4 linked regions of the Homo sapiens genome follow. The protein of the gene in region 2 purifies or fractionates together with the protein of the main gene of each other region. This does not show direct contact. Each region holds a gene or a part of one and is shown on either strand. Other genes may lie near its edges.

The links. Proteins that work in one complex are often made in the same cells at the same time.
Region 1: the proteins of PLEKHO2 (region 2) and FLAD1 purify together in Homo sapiens (affinity purification with mass spectrometry; 3 studies listed by BioGRID and IntAct, with this or other methods). This does not show direct contact.
Region 3: the proteins of PLEKHO2 (region 2) and UBR2 purify together in Homo sapiens (affinity purification with mass spectrometry; 3 studies listed by BioGRID and IntAct, with this or other methods). This does not show direct contact.
Region 4: the proteins of PLEKHO2 (region 2) and CAPZB purify together in Homo sapiens (affinity purification with mass spectrometry; 5 studies listed by BioGRID and IntAct, with this or other methods). This does not show direct contact.

The regions. Positions count from the first base shown.
Region 1 is NC_000001.11:154,989,844-154,993,343, reverse strand, and holds the end of FLAD1 (FAD synthase), read right to left. Parts: intron 3,186-3,500; coding exon 3,087-3,185; intron 3,006-3,086; coding exon 2,816-3,005; intron 780-2,815; coding exon of another isoform or gene 753-779; exon of another isoform or gene 632-752; coding exon 558-631; coding exon of another isoform or gene 554-557; exon of another isoform or gene 443-553; coding exon 307-442; 3' UTR 233-306; downstream 1-232. UniProt on the Homo sapiens protein: Catalyzes the adenylation of flavin mononucleotide (FMN) to form flavin adenine dinucleotide (FAD) coenzyme.
Region 2 is NC_000015.10:64,840,250-64,845,019, reverse strand, and holds the start of PLEKHO2 (pleckstrin homology domain-containing family O member 2), read right to left. Parts: upstream 3,106-4,770; 5' UTR 3,004-3,105; coding exon 2,992-3,003; intron 1-2,991.
Region 3 is NC_000006.12:42,686,029-42,689,528, reverse strand, and holds part of UBR2 (E3 ubiquitin-protein ligase UBR2), read right to left. Parts: intron 1,314-3,500; coding exon 1,143-1,313; intron 543-1,142; coding exon of another isoform or gene 521-542; exon of another isoform or gene 1-520. UniProt on the Homo sapiens protein: E3 ubiquitin-protein ligase which is a component of the N-end rule pathway.
Region 4 is NC_000001.11:19,356,540-19,360,039, forward strand, and holds part of CAPZB (F-actin-capping protein subunit beta), read right to left. Parts: intron 1,025-3,500; coding exon 883-1,024; intron 213-882; coding exon 96-212; intron 1-95. UniProt on the Homo sapiens protein: F-actin-capping proteins bind in a Ca(2+)-independent manner to the fast growing ends of actin filaments (barbed end) thereby blocking the exchange of subunits at these ends.

The DNA of each region.
Region 1 (3,500 bases), on a different chromosome or scaffold from region 2:
TGCCCTGCCTGATTGCCCTTTTCCCAGTGGTTGGCACAACTCCTGCTTTCGCCCTCTGGTGGGCTCCTGCTGAGGCTGACATTGAGAACCATCAGTGAGAGCTCCTTTCCAGCCTGTTCTGCCCTGCCCCTGGGCCCCTTAGAGTGAGCACAGCCAGTCAGAGCTGGCAGCATTTGACCCACTTCTGCTTCTCCCATCCTCTGGAGCAGGAAGACACAGCTAGAGCAACAGGCACAGTGAGAGGCACGGTTTATTGCCAGGTTATACCCTAGGACGGTGTCCTTCCCTCCCTCCTAGGGTGGGAGGTCATGTGCGGGAGTTCCGCTCCTCTTCTTCGTTCTCCAGTAGATAGGCTGGACGGTATGTGGGGTGTCCTCCTGGGCTCAGGCACTTCAGGGCCGGGTTCCGCACGGTATTCTCCCGACTCCCCAGTGATGTGTATCTGGAGCAGGGAGGGTGGAGGGCAAGCATGTGGTAGGGTGGGCGATCCTATTGGCCCTCCCTATCCCAGCACCCTAAAAACTCCCTTACCCATTCCCTTCCCCTAATACCCTTACCCTCGGTCATACAGGATACAGTATGGGACAAACAGCTGACGCAGAAAATCCCAGATGTCTCTGTAGGTCCAGTCCTGGGAGGTCAGAGTAATAGAATAGTCACAAATGCTCACCTTTCCCACTTCTACCCCTGCTGTCCTGGGAAGGGGCCCATCCATGGCTCTTCTGCTCCCTTGGCCTCTGAGGGAGGGCTTGCTATCTGATTCTCTGGTATAGCTTGCTCTATGTATGCAAAGAGAAAGAGAAGGACTTCATCTTCTCCACTCTCTGCTTTCCATTCTTGAACCACCCTCTAGTGCAAGGGTGGAGCTTGAGGACAGGGAGAAACCGTCTATTTTTTTTTTGAGACGGAGTCTGGCTCTGTCGCCCAGGCTGGAGTGCAGTGGCGTGGTCTTGGCTCACTGCAACCTCTGCCTCCCGGGTTCATGCCATTCTCCTGCCTCAGCCTCCCGAGTAGCTGGCACTACAGGCGCCCACCACTGTGCCCAGCTAATTTTTTGTATTTTTAGTAGAGACGGGATTTCACTGTGTAGCCAGGATGGTCTCCATCTCCTGACTTCATGATCCGCCCGCCACGGCCTCCCAAAGTGCTGGGATTACAGGCGTGTGCCACCATGCCCGGCCCTATTTTTTTTTTTTTTTTTGAGACGGAGTCTTGCTCTGTCACCCAGGCTGGAGTGCAGTGGCGCGATCTTGGCTCACTGCAACCTCCGCTTCCCAGATTTAAGCAATTCTCCTGCCTCAGCCTCCTGAGTAGCTGGGATTACAGGCATGCGCCACCACAGCCGGCTAATTTTTGTATTTTTTTAGTAGAGATGGGGTTTCACCATGTTGGTCAGGCTGGTCTTGAAATCCTGACCTCGTGATGTGCCTGCCTCGGCCTCCCAAAGTGCTGGGATTACAGGCGTGTGCCACCGTGCCCAGCCCTATTTTTTTTAGACAGGGCCTTTACTGTTGCCCAGGCTGGAGTGCACTGGCATGATCATGGCTCACTACAGCCTCGACTTCCCTGGCTCAAGCGATCTTCCCGCCTCAGCCTGAGTAGCTGGGACTACAGGCATTGATCAGCCCACCTCGGCCTCCCAGAGTGCTGGGGTTACAGGTGTGAGCCACTGTGCCTGGCCAGAACTTCCTGTGATGATGGAAATGTTCTGTATCTCTACTGTCTAATATGGTGGTCATTTGAAATGTGGCTAGTACAACTGAATAACTGTATTTTTTTTTTGTTTGTTTGGACGGAGTCTCACTCTGTTGCTCAGGCTGGAGTATAGTGGTGCCATCTTGGCTCACTGCAACCTCTGCCTCCTGGGTTCAAGTGATTCTCCTACCTCAGCCTCCTGAGTAGTTGGGATTACAGGTGCCTGCCACCACGCTCCGCTAATTTTTGTATTTTTAGTAGAGACTGGGTTTCATCATTTTGGTTAGGCTGGTCTCGATCTCCTGACCTCAGGCGATCCACCTGCCTCAGCCTCCCAAAGTGCAGGGATTACAGGTGTAAGCCACTACGCCCGGCCTGTGTATGTGTGTGTGTATATATATATATACATATATATATATATATTTTTTTTTTTTTTTTTTTTGAGACAGAGTCTTGTTCTGTTGCCCAGGCTGGAGTACAGTGGTGCCATCTCAGCTCACTGCAACCTCCGTCTCCTGGGTTCAAGCAATTCTCCTGCCTCAGCCTCTCGAGTAACTAGGACTACAGGCCACCACGCCTGGCTAATTTTTTGTATTTTTAGTAGAGACAGGGTTTCGCCATGTTGGCCAGGCTGGTCTCGAACTCCTGGCCTCAAGTGATCTGCCCACCATGGCCTCCCAAAGTGCTGGGATTACAGGCGTGAGCCACTGCGCCCAGCCAGAACTGAATTTTTAATTGTACTTAATTTTAAAAATTGAGGTATCCACATACCATCAAATTCATCCTTTTAAAGTATATAATTCAGTGGTTTTTAGTCATATGTATTTCATTCTAATTAATTAAAATTTAAGTATAAATAAATAATTAATGGCTATATTGGACAGCACAAGTCTAAGTCACTATTCTATCCACAGTAGGAAGTGCAATGCCTGCTATTGAATTTGGGCTCAATAAATATTGGTCAAAAGGATGAATGAACAGATAGCACTGCCTCCCTTGGATGATGAGGCCCCTTCATCCAGGTTCCAGGCTCTAGCCTCCCCACTACTGCAGGTGAGCTAGGGTGCAGTGACTGCTGGGGCACGTGAGACTGAAGGTGATAAACCCTCTTCCCCATTACCAGCAGTGGGTTGATGCGCATGAATGCGGGCCAGCCTGGGTCAGTGGGGCTGAAAGGGCAGAGGCTACAGGAGTAGGGGTCAGTCCGGCGGGTGCCCATAAGGACAGCCTCCAGCTGGGGGTGCCGTGCCTGCAGTTCACCCAGGGCCTGCTTCATGCTGCCCTCAGCTTCCAACATCTGCAGATTATACCTTAGGAAGAAACAGAAGTAGGGGTCGGGCGTGGGCTCTGTCAAGCTTCTCTTGGAGCCCAAACCTCCAGGCCCCTAGTACCTCTTGATAGTGTCCTGTAGAAACTGTTCCAGCTCAGGGAAAGGGGAGATGCTGCGGATATACAGGATCTGGAGGGGGTTTGGAACATCAGGTAATTTCCTGCAGAGGGGGAAGAATCCACAGGCTTGTGAGCATGGACAAGGAAATGGCTCCCCTGAAACAGCTCACTGTTCTCGTTGGCCCCTAGGACAGACTCTCACCCCTTCTCCCTTTTCCTTGTCCTTTCCATCCATTAGACCCACTTCCTCTGGGAAGCCCACTCTGACCTTTCACCTCTCAAATCTAAGCACGCATCCCTGGTTCAGGTATGTAAATCTCTCATCTCCCCAGCAGGACTGTGACCTCCCTGTCGTCAGGGATAGTGGCCTGCACATCCATACACAAGGCCAGGCACATATCATATACTCAATATGG
Region 2 (4,770 bases):
GCCGGGGCATTGAGAGAGAGGAAGCACAGGCTCTGCCCCAGGGCAACCTTCAGTCTGAGGTGGGTAACAGAGACGCTGTATAAGATAAGTCCCCTGTCTGGTGGGGAGCGGGTAATCTCCTGCTTGAGAGGCTCCAGCCTATTGGCAGAGACATAGCACTTAACCAGAGGGATGCACCGGTCCTAGCTCTCTGATGAGATAAGGGCTTGGGGTTCGTTTGGGAGACCCCTGCAGAAGGTAGGGTTTGGGGAGGGCTCTGAGCAGGGGAAGAGACACACGCCTTGGTCCAGAGAAGGCAAGGCACAAAAGGTTATCAAAGCCCCTGCCCCCTCAACCCCTTTACTATAGAAAGAGAAAGTACAGCCCAGAAAGGGCAAGAGATTACTCCGTGGGACAGAAACAGTACTGGGACAGGACACTGCCCTGCTTGTCTCTAGATGGTGAGGGCAAGTGGAGAGCCTAGAAGCCAGGGAAAGGCATGACTGCTGGCAGAGGACAGAGCCCCAGAGTACAGAAGGGAAAGCCTAGGTCCAGGATTTCCACCCTTACTCCAATGGCAGCAATAATACCCCCACTGATATTCGCAGTTTTCTCAGCTTTTGAATATACATCATCACATTGCTCGATCACCCACCCTTTTCCTTTTACAAAGGAGGAACCGAGGCCAGGAGCACACAGGTGGGCAGATGCCCAGTGCCCAGACCAGCATCTCCTCCCCAAGCCTCAGCCTGACAAGAGCTACCAGCCTGCCCGTTGCATAGAGGAGGTCACTGAGGCTGAGGGACCTTGGCCCAGGGTGGCCGGGCACAGGGAGGAAGCTGAAAGCTAGCAGGAGGGCTGAAAGCAGCCATGTGAAAGAGATGATGAAGATGGCCTGGGATCATGGGGCAGAGCATGTGGCTATGACCTAAGAGGTGTTTTAGAGAAACAAAGATGGGCACTGAGGCCTAGTGCAACAAGCGGAAGCTACTGGGAGAAGTGGGAGGAAAGCAGAGTTAGGGATGCCAAAGGGGAGTAGGGAAAGGAAGCCCCTGCTGTGGGGGTGAGGCTTGCAGGGGCTTGGGTAAAGTGGACAAGAACTTAGATGGCCCAGATATTTAGAGAGCTTTGGGCATCTAGGAGTCAGAAAGTGGCAATATAGGCTGGGTGCAATAGCTCATGCCTGTAACCCCAACACTTTCGGAGGCCGAGGCAGGCGGATCACCTGAGGTCAGGAGTTCGAGACCAGCCTGACCAACATGGAGAAACCCCATGTCTACTAAAAATACAAAATTAGCCAGGCGTGGTGGTGCATGCCTGTAATCCCAGCTATTCAGGAGGCTGAGGCAGGAGAATTGCTTGAACCCAGGAGGTGGCGGTTGCGGTGAGCCAATATCTCGCCACTGCACTCCAGCCTGGGCAACAAGAGCGAAACTCCGTCTCAAAAAAAAAAAAAAAGAAAAGAAAGTGACAATGTGAGAGATTCAGGACCAAGGGTGTACAGAGCTGAGCCGGGCCCAGGAGGTGTCCGGAGAACTTCCCTTAATCAGGGGCCAGCGCAGATCAGGAGATGGAGTAATCCTGACCCACATCCTCTGGGAGCAGGGGAGGGGCCCTGGCCAGAGAGCCCAGCCCTTGCAGCAGGGGCCTGGGGCAGGCAGATGGCAGCCCCACCTAACAGCCAGAAAGAAACCGCAGCAAATCACAGAGGCCTGACTTTGCCCCCTACCTTCACCCACTGAGAGAACCGGCCACTGTCAGGCCAGGAGTATGAGGAGGACAGGCACTATATTTTGTAGAAGAGGAAATGAAGGCTGAGAGGGGAAGTGACTTATCTACCATCCCACAGAAAGGCAGGGCCTGGCCTAGAGGGAGCCCTGACGGACCACTAGCTGCTCCTATCCATGGCCCTGGAAAAGTGGGAGGTGGGCACTGAAGGGACACAGGCAGTCCGGTCCACTCAGGGCTTCCCAGCTGGCCAGGGTTCCCCCAAGGCAGAGAACTTCATCTTTCCTCCCCATCCAAGGAGGCAAAGACATGCCCCTTCCCTTGGGCTGAGAGGGGCTGAAGCTGGGACCCCCTCAGGGGATAAGAAACAAATTCACCTTCCTCTAGACCCAACAGGCCCCTCATTTTAACTTAATCATTCCACAGGCATATATTAAGTGCTTGCTGCGTGCTGGACCCTCGGATAAAGCGGCTGCTGGCAGAACTGAGTTTGCAAGTAAAGGGCAGGGGCAGGGGCAAGACCCAATCCCAGGCCAAGAGTGTTTTGAGTGGTTAGAAGGAGGCTCCAGGGACACAGTTGGTCCAGCCCTCGGGTGGGGAAGGCAGGGACTAAGATCAGACCCTAGGTGGGCCGGACTCCCGATTCCTTCCCTACAGCTAGCTGCTCAGATGGATGTGGAGCGGGGAGAGAGTGGGGGAAAAGATACAGAGACTTATACAAGGGAGAAAAAAGCAACTTCTCCAATCCTCCTGCCACCAAAGCATGGTCACATCCTTGAGACAGGAACCCCCCAACACACACATACACACACACACAGAGTCAGGATCCGATCCTTGAGACAGGAACCCCCCAACACACACATACACACACACACACAGTCAGGATCCGACACACACACACACACACACACACACACACACAGAGAGAGAGAGAGAGTCAGGATCCGACCACGGTAATCGGGGTTCGAGCCCAGTCACCCAGGCCACTTTCAGCAAGTCATCAATCTCGCTGGAGTCTCAGTCTCCTGGTCAATCCAATGGGAACGGTAACAACCACGACGCCCCACAACTGGTGAGAAAGTCAGCGAGAATGAAGGAGGACGCGGTCTGCGAAGTCCCCGATATGGATCCAGCCCCTCGCCCCTGCCCCATTTGCCCAGGCTCTTCCTGAGGTGAGACTGGCGGGAGTGGGGCGGGCAGGAACGAGGGCCTGAGCCCAGGACCGCAATCCCCGTGAGGGGCTCGAGGACCCCAGCCCAACGCCCCGCCGGGCCCCGCCCTCACCTCCTCCTCCATGGCGAGTCCGCCGAGGTCCCGCCGCTCCGCCACTCGCTTCCAGCGCCGCGCGGGCTCTGCCACCGCGTCTACGCCCGGCCAGGCGGCGACTCTCCGCGTTCTGTCCCGCCGGCTGCCGGGGGCCCAAGAAACTTCGGGGGGGCGGGGCCGGGGGCGGGGTGAGGCTTCCGGGGGCCGGGGCGGGGCCGGGGAGGGGGCGGTGGGGCCGGGGGCCCGGCCCAGGGCGGGAAATGGGTGGGGAGGGGCGGGGCCTGGGTTGGAGACTGGACGGAGGAGCCGGGCGGAGATGCAACTGGAGGAAGAGGGCGGGACGGGGCGGAGAAGGTTTCCCGCATCGGCGGAGGGAGAGGGACTAGGAGGGGGCTGCGGCGGGGGAGGAGAGGGGGCTTCCGGCCCAGAGACTGAGGCGAGGGTGGCGGGAGCGGCGCGCAGGCAGGGCTGGGGTGGGGCGCACACAGTGAGCGCTGGGGGCGCTGGCGGTGGAGCCTTTGAGGTCTCCCGAACCAGTGGGCTGGGGTTGCGAGACCGAGCCGAGCTGCCCTGGGCGGCCAGAGATGTGGGCACACAGAGGCTCCTCCTCTTTCCTCCCCGACGCCGGGCAGTGGGCGGTGGCCTGGTCTTCTCCCTGGAACCTCTGGGCGGGGCCGGGCCTGGAGCTTGGGTCTCTGTCCGGAGGGTGGTGTCACAGGAAGAGCTGGAGCTGAGAGTCGGGACTCCGGGGTCCCTTTAGGGGGCGGCCCGCCCCTGGCTCTCAGGGGTCTCCAAGCGCAGTGTTCTCCTGCTCTCCTTGGGCATCGCTCAATCCCTCCCGTATCTGAGGGTCGACCATCCCCCCGATCCCGCGGTGAGCTTGCAGCCCTGACAGCCTTACTGGAGAGTGGGAGTGTGGGGACCAGCAGAGAGTAATGATTTTAGTTATACCATGCGCCCTCATTTTACATTGGAGAAACTGAGGCCCAGAGAGAGAAAGTAACTGGCTGCATCGCAGCCTGCAGCACCGCTCCCCTCTCACACACACACGCATACTCCCCCTTAGCTCTCCTGGTCAACCCCGTCCCATGCCAAGGAAGGGAAAATTAAGTGCATGTGAGATCAATGGTGACCTTCTTCGGCTCTGGCTGCCATAGCAGCGGCTGTGCCAGCGACCAAGCTCCCCTTTCACGGCCTTCTGCCAGCCCTCAGGCTCCCAGGCTACTTCCAGCCCTGTACGGAAAAGGGCAGCCTGGGGCTCCCAGGCCAAGGGGGAAGGAGATGCAGGTACACTTCTCCCTCATGCCTAGGCCTGGGATCCTTTAGCTAAAGGAATGAAGAAAATTGAGGCTGATATTATCACACTGGTCAAGAAAAAGAAAGAATAGAAAAGAAAGAGAGAGGAAGGAGAGAGAGAGGAAGGAGGGAGGGAAGGAAGGAAAAAAGGAAAGAAAGAAAAAGAAAAGAAAGAGAAATGAAGGAAGGAAAGAAAGAAAAGAAACAAGGAAGGAGAGAGGAAGGAAGGACGGAGGGAAGGAAGGAAAGAAAAGAAAGAGCTGGGAGCGGTGGCTCACACCTGTAATCCCAGCACTTTGGGAGGCTGAGGCAGGCTGATCACCTGAGGTCGGGAGTTCAGACCAACCTGACCAACGTGGAGAAACCCCGTCTCTACTAAAAATAGAAAATTAGCCAGGCGAGGTGGTGCATCCCTGTAATCCCAGCTACTTGAGCGGCTGAGGCAGGAGAATCGCTTGAGCCCGAAAGGCGGAGGTTGCAGTGAGCTGAGATCACGCCATT
Region 3 (3,500 bases), on a different chromosome or scaffold from region 2:
GTAACCAACATTTGTATTCAGTTCCAAATAGAATGAAGTCTTATAGTACTGATATTTAAACCACTATTAGGAGGAAGTTATCCATTAAAAAATTGTGCACAAACTAGGAAATAGGTTGAATCGAGTCAAATTTGTGTCCCCTGATCCCTTTGAGACATTTGCCTTTTTCTGGCATTAATAGTACAGCACAATTAAACAGACATTTATTGAGGACCTAATACGTATAAGAAATTATCAAGGTACTGGGGGGATGACTAAGCTATGGATACAACCTATGCTCCAGAGGAGCCCACACTCATGTCATGCCTCTGCTTCAAACCCTGAAATGGCTTACACCTTGCCCAGAGATGTCACCAGCACACAGCAGGCCCCTGGATTCTCTCACCTGTGCACAACACTCCAGTGACACGCGCCTCCTTGCCTTGAGCAGACAGGCACATTTCTACCCCAGGAACTGTGCAGAATGTTCTGAGTAGAATGTTCTCCCACTTCTTTAGGTCTTTACTCAGAAGTCATGTTCTTAGGAAGCCTTCCCTGATCTACTAAAATTAAATCTCAAATTTAGCTCCATAGCTGCCATTTCATATTCCCCTTCCCTGCTTTATTTTTTCTCCTTAGCCTATATCACTATCTAAATTCTTGTCAGTCTTGCTTGTCCTCTCTCTCATACAAAACAAGCTCCATCCATAAGGGCAGAGATCTTTGCACTGTGGACTACTGCATCCTCAATGCCTGGTACATAGTAGTCACTAATCACAAGCTGGCATGTAGAGTTGTGATAATATGTATAAGTGGAGGTAAAATCCAAAAGCCATGAGGACATAACAGAAAGAGTAATTCTGACTGGATTTGTTCAGAAAATCAGAGAAGTTTCACATTAGTGGGAGACATGGAGAAAGTAGAACAGAACTGTCACCTATGGTTGAGGGAAGAGGAGTGGGAATGGTAACAATAAAAGAACCAACACAGAGTTGGCATGGACCAGATGTGAGATGTGAGGCGACAAGGAGCTCCACGTTTCTGGAATGAATCACACGGAACAGTAGTCTCAAAATTCCTGGCAATATAGTAGTTTCCTGTGACACCCTAACAGTCAGATACTGAGGCAGATCCAAAGCTAAAAAGCCCCTGCAGGTCCTTACCTCAGGAAGATGCCCACTCCAGAGCCACAGGAGTAGGTGTGAGCTGTGCAGGCTCCTACATCCTCCCCTTCCAGTTCAGTCTGGCAGCAGTAACTCTGGGAGCACAGCAGAGATCCGCACACAAGGCACAGAGTTGGGGCTCTGCTCTTATCACCACCTGATTTCGGGCACCTCCAAGGGATAAAAAACCCACAAGTCATTGATCTAAAGAGTGGCTAAAGAGCTAGTGATGAAAAAACCAGCCCAGAAAAGAATTCTGCAATATCAAGTAAAGCCAAAGAAGTGTATATCCTACAGTCTATGCAAGTTTATTCCTAGAATCTGGAATAGGAAACATCTTGCACATATATACAAAGACCATGTACTGGAAACACTCAAAAGAATCAGTAACTGGAGAAAAAAAAATAAATAAAATCATCAATAGGAGAAAAAGATAAACGGTACCACTGCCATATAATAAAATACTATGGAGCAATGAAAAATCAATAAAGTTATAAACGTCAATACAGATAAATCTTAGAAACAATGCTGAATGAATGCAAAATTGGCTGGGTGCAGTGGCTCACGCCTGTAATCCCAGCACTTTGGGAGGCAAAGGTGGGTGGATCAACTGAGGTCAGGAGTTTGAGACCAGCCTGACCAATATGGTGAAACCCCGTCTCTACTAAAAATACAAAAATTAGCCAGGCATGGTGGTGTGCACCTGTAGTCCCAGCTACTTTGGAGGCTGAGACTGGAGAATCACTTGAACCTGGGAGGCGGAGGTTGCTGTGAGCCAAGATCACACCACTGCACTCCAGCCTGGGCAACAGAGTGAGACCCTGTCTCAATAAATAAATAAATAAATAAATAAATAAAATAAAATACAACATACAGCTCTCCCTCTCCCTCTCTTCTCTCCCTCTCCCCTTTGCACAGTCTCCCTCTGATGCCGAGCCGAGGCTGGACTGTACTGCCGCCATCTTGGCTCACTGCAACCTCCCTGCCTGATTCTCCTGTCTCAGCCTGCCCAGTGCCTGGGATTGCAGGCGCGCGCCGCCACGCCTGACTGGTTTTTGTATTTTTTGGTGGAGACGGGGTTTCGCCGTGTTGGCCGGGCTGGTCTCCAGCTCCTGACGGCGAGTGATCTGCCAGCCTCGGCCTCCCGAGGTGCCAGGATTGCAGAGGGAGTCTTGCTCACTCAGTGCTCAATGTTGCCCAGGCTGGAGTGCAGTGGCGCGATCTCGGCTCGCTACAACCTCCACCTCCCAGCCGCCTGCCTTGGCCTCCCAAAGTGCGGAGATTGCAGCCTCTGCCCGGCCGCCACCCCGTCTAGGAAGTGACGAGCGTCTCTGCCCGGCCGCCCAGTCTGAGAAGTGAGGAGCCCCTCTTCCTGGCCGTCATCCCGTCTAGGAAGTGAGGAGCGTCTCTGCCCGGCCGCCCATCGTCTGGGATGTGGGGAGCGCCTCTGCCCCGCCGCCCCGTCTGGGATGTGAGGAGCGCCTCTGCCCGGCCGCGACCCTGTCTGGGAGGTGAGGAGTGTCTCCGACCGGCTGCCCCGTCTGAGAAGTGAGGAGCCCCTCCGCCCGGCAGCCGCCCCGTCTGGGAAGTGAGGAGCGTCTCCGCCCAGCAGCCGCCCAGTCCGGGAGGTGGGGGGCAGCCCCTACCCGGCCAGCTGCCCCGTCCGGGAGGTGGGGGGCAGCTCCCACCCGGCCAGCCGCCCCGTCCGGGAGGTGGGGGGCGCCTCTGCCCGGCTGCCCCGTCTGGGAAGTGAGGAGCCTCTCTACCTGGCCGCCACCCCATCTGGGAGGTGCAACCAACAGCTCATTGACAACAGGCCGTGATGACGATGGCGGTTTTGTCGAATAGAAAAGGGGGAAATGTGGGGAAAAGAAAGAGAGATCAGATTGTTACTGTGTCTGTGTAGAAAGAAGTAGACATAGGAGACTCCATTTTGTTCTGTACTAAGAAAAATTCTTCTGCCTTGGGATGCTGTTAATCTATAACCTTACCCCCAACCCCGTGCTCTCTGAAACATGTGCTGTGTCCACTAAGGGTTAAATGGATTAAGGGCGGTGCAAGATGTGCTTTGTTAAACAGATGCTTGAAGGCAGCATGCTCGTTAAGAGTCATCACCACTCCCTAATCTCAAGTACCCAGGGACACAAACACTGCGGAAGGCCGCAGGGACCTCTGCCTAGGAAAACCAGAGACCTTTGTTCACATCTTTATCTGCTGACCTTCCCTCCACTATTGTCCTATGACCCTGCCAAATCCCCCCCTCCGAGAAACACCCAAGAATGATCAATAAATACTAATTAAAAAAAAAACATACAAAATAACAATACATGCTGCTCAAGAATAGAAACTTATATAGTT
Region 4 (3,500 bases), on a different chromosome or scaffold from region 2:
CCCTAAATGGGGCACCTGCTCACTCATCTCTGCAGGTCAGCACTGAGGCCAGCACCTGTGGGCACTGGCAAGTGGCTATGAGCGGGTAACTCTACCTGTCTGGTAAGGCTGCCTCCGAGGTTCATGGTGCCAGAGCCAGATTTGTTGGTCTGCAGCCACAGCATCACCGTGGAGGTCAACTTGTAATGGGCGGTGCGACCGCTGGATTTCTCCTGGAAGGACAAGACAGAGATCTGTTGAGCTGAGGGAGAGCCTGAAGTGGCCCCTGGAATTCAGGGTCATCCTAACATCTCCCTTCCTAGGTCATTATCACAATATTACCTTTTTTTTTTTTAAATTGGAGACAAAGTCTCGCTCTGTCACCCAGGCTGGAGTGCAGTGGTGCGATCTCAAGTCACTGCAGCCTCCACCTCCCAGGTTCAAGCGATTCTCCTGCCTCAGCCTCCCAAGTAGCTGGGATTATGGGCGCCCGCCACCACGCCTGGCTAATGTTTTTTGTGTTTTTGGTAGAGATGCGGTTTCGCCATATTGGCCAGGCTGGTCTTGAACTCCTGACCTCCGGTGATCTGCCCACCTCAGCCTCCCAAACTGCTGGGATTACAGGCCCGAGCCACCGTACCTGGCCTCACAATATTGTCTTTCTTAAAAAATCTCAACTGGTTTTTAAAGGGACATTTGTAATTATGTATTTCTTCTGGGAACTTAATCATCAATGACTACTGCAGACTTATCTTTATCCAAATGGCTTTGAGGCATTTCTCAGAATTAGGGGTTCAGAGATCACAGCATCCCCCTACTGCATCTGTTAGAGAGCAGCGCGGCACTGGTTGGTGTGCCATCTGTACTTAGTGGCCCGGGCCACCAGCTGCTGGGAGGCAGTACCTGCACTTCTACCACGTGGATGGAATCCCAGCAGCCTTTGATCTTCTTTGATCCATCTCCAGCCTTCTTTATGAGGATCACTCCAGCAAAGCCATGATCCAGATCCCAGAGGTAGACAGATGAGACGCCACCTTCAAAATACCTGCAGGAAACAGGCCAATGTGCCTGTTAGATGCTAAAGGACAGATCATCAGCCTGGGTCCCAGGCTGCTGCTCAGCAAAGATTCTGGGATTCAGGGCCCTCCCTGCGACAGTTATGGGAGCCGATCCTTGGGTGTGTTCTGATCGTTCTGTGGCTGGGGGAGGGGGTGCAGCATTCCTGGGGGTGTAGTAGGTTTAGGCGTCATAAAGATGAATCTGAGGTTGGACTCTGCCACCTCCTCTATCTGTGTGGTCTTTGGCTTACTGAACCTCTCTGGGCGTCACACTCCTCCCAGATAAAGAATGCAGCACGACTGACATCCAGTGACAATCCATGCAGGCCATGACTACTGGAGTCACCACGGTTGTTCGATATTTCTGTCTTTTGGGATATTTTACAGGGCAGATGAGAAAATACAGCAACAAACTCCCTACACCCTGATCCCTCCTGAGCCTGGCAGACCAGGGCTCCAGTTGGTCTTTCGGAGCAACCTCCTACAAAGCGCTAGCCGGAAATGAAGGGCTCAGCTTGAGACAGTGCTTCCTCCTCAAATCCGACGCAATGCAAAAACATCTTTTCTTTTTTTCTGTTTTTGAGATGAAGCCTCACCATCTCCCAGGCTGGAGTGCAGTGGCACCATCTCGGCTCACTGCAACCTCCGCCTCCCAGGTTCAAACGATTCTCCTGCCTCAACCTCCTGAGTAGCTGGGATCACAGGTGTGCACCACTGCACTTGGCTAATTTCTGTATTTTTAGTAGAGATGGGGTTTTGCCATGTTGGCCAGGCTGGTCTCAAAACCCTGACCTCAAGTGATCCACCCGCCTCAGCCTCCCAAAGTGCTGGGATTACAGGCATGAGCCACTGCGCCTGGCCCAGAAACATTTCTAATTATAATCAAATGGAAGAGGGATTTCTAATTACGATCAAATGGAAGAGGGAACGAAAAGGTTAGATGAGAAATGGGAATCAGTCTGGGATCCCAAACCCAACAGACCCAGGTCAACTACTGTGGCTCACTGGGACTGCCGTGAGCAGAGGTGAGGGGTGGAGTCAGCTGATGGGAACCGCAAATGCTGTTGATAACCAACAAAAACTATGCGAAATCTCATTTCTTGTGGCGAAAGTCTGTAGCCTCTCCGACCCCAATTAAGCCCCAAAGAGAGAAATCTCATCTCTCGTGGTGAGCACATCTTTATCAGAAAGTCTGGGGCCTCTCTGACACCTATTAAGCCCCAAAGCCACGGTGTGGCAGGTGCATTCTGGGAGCACCCTGCCCTCAGCCCTGGACAGCTGGGAAGGTGGGCCGCAGAGTGCACTGGGTGGGTACAGGCTTGGGAGTCAGACAGACCCAATGACAGCTCTAGCACGCCCAGCTATGAGTTATGCTCATGCATGCATGCGTCCAACAACTATTTACTAAGGGACCAGCGGTGTGAATATGGGCCTCAGGGACTTAATCTACTTTCTACGGCTGTTGAGAGACAAAAACAATTAGGAAAAGTAGACACCTGCCAAACGGTTAATGTAAAATTAAGTACTAGAAATTAACATGTATCTGTAGATTATGTCTCACCAAAGCTATTATATAACAAAAAATACACATTTACAGAATGTGGGTGATGGGTATACAAGAATTCTCTGTACTCTTTTTTTTTTTTTTTTTTTTTTGCAATTTTACAGTAAGTCATACCATTCCAAACTAAAAAGCTTTTGTGAAAAATCAGTACACGAATACACCGGAGTGTAATGTAACTAAGAGACCACCAGACCAAGAAAGCAAGGCATCCTCCCAGGAGAATGAGGGTGCCCTGGCTGGTCTGCCCTCACTCCAACCCGCAGACCTGCGGAGCATCCAGGGGGCCGATACTCAGGTGGGCTACCCTTGGCCCCCTGCCCAGGGCTCCCTCAGGCAGGCTGCGGCCAGCCCCTGCGGCAGGACCACATCCTGTCCCATTCCCCTCTCCGGCACTACCCACTATGATTAAGCTCTCAAACCGAGTACACCATGGTGTGTCCACGGGTGAGTCTACAGGAGGGCAGATGAGGGCAGGGCTGTCTGGCTAACCAAGTGTCACTCAGGGAACACCTGTCGGATGGAGGTGTCAGGTGTCAGATGCTGAGCCCATCGCTGGTCAAACTGCGCAGGGTGGGGAAGGGTCTGGCTCTGGCCAGGTGCAGCACAGGCATCCTTTCCTACGAGAGGAAAAGGACCACTGGATGAACAGACACACCTGTGAGGCCCAGAGCTCACTGCTGGCAGAGGTGATGTCCAGGAAACCGGCCAACACTGGCACTCAGAGATCCCACTCCAGAAGATCATTTCCTTTATTCCGGTCTGCTCCAAAGTCCCCATTCTTGGGGCGAGGCGAGGTAAGCAGATGAGTGTTTTGGTCCAGGGCCCAAAACCCCATCTGCCTCCATAGAGCCCTCCTGGTCTGGACCGGGCCCACACAGAGTTGGAGAGATCAGGCCATT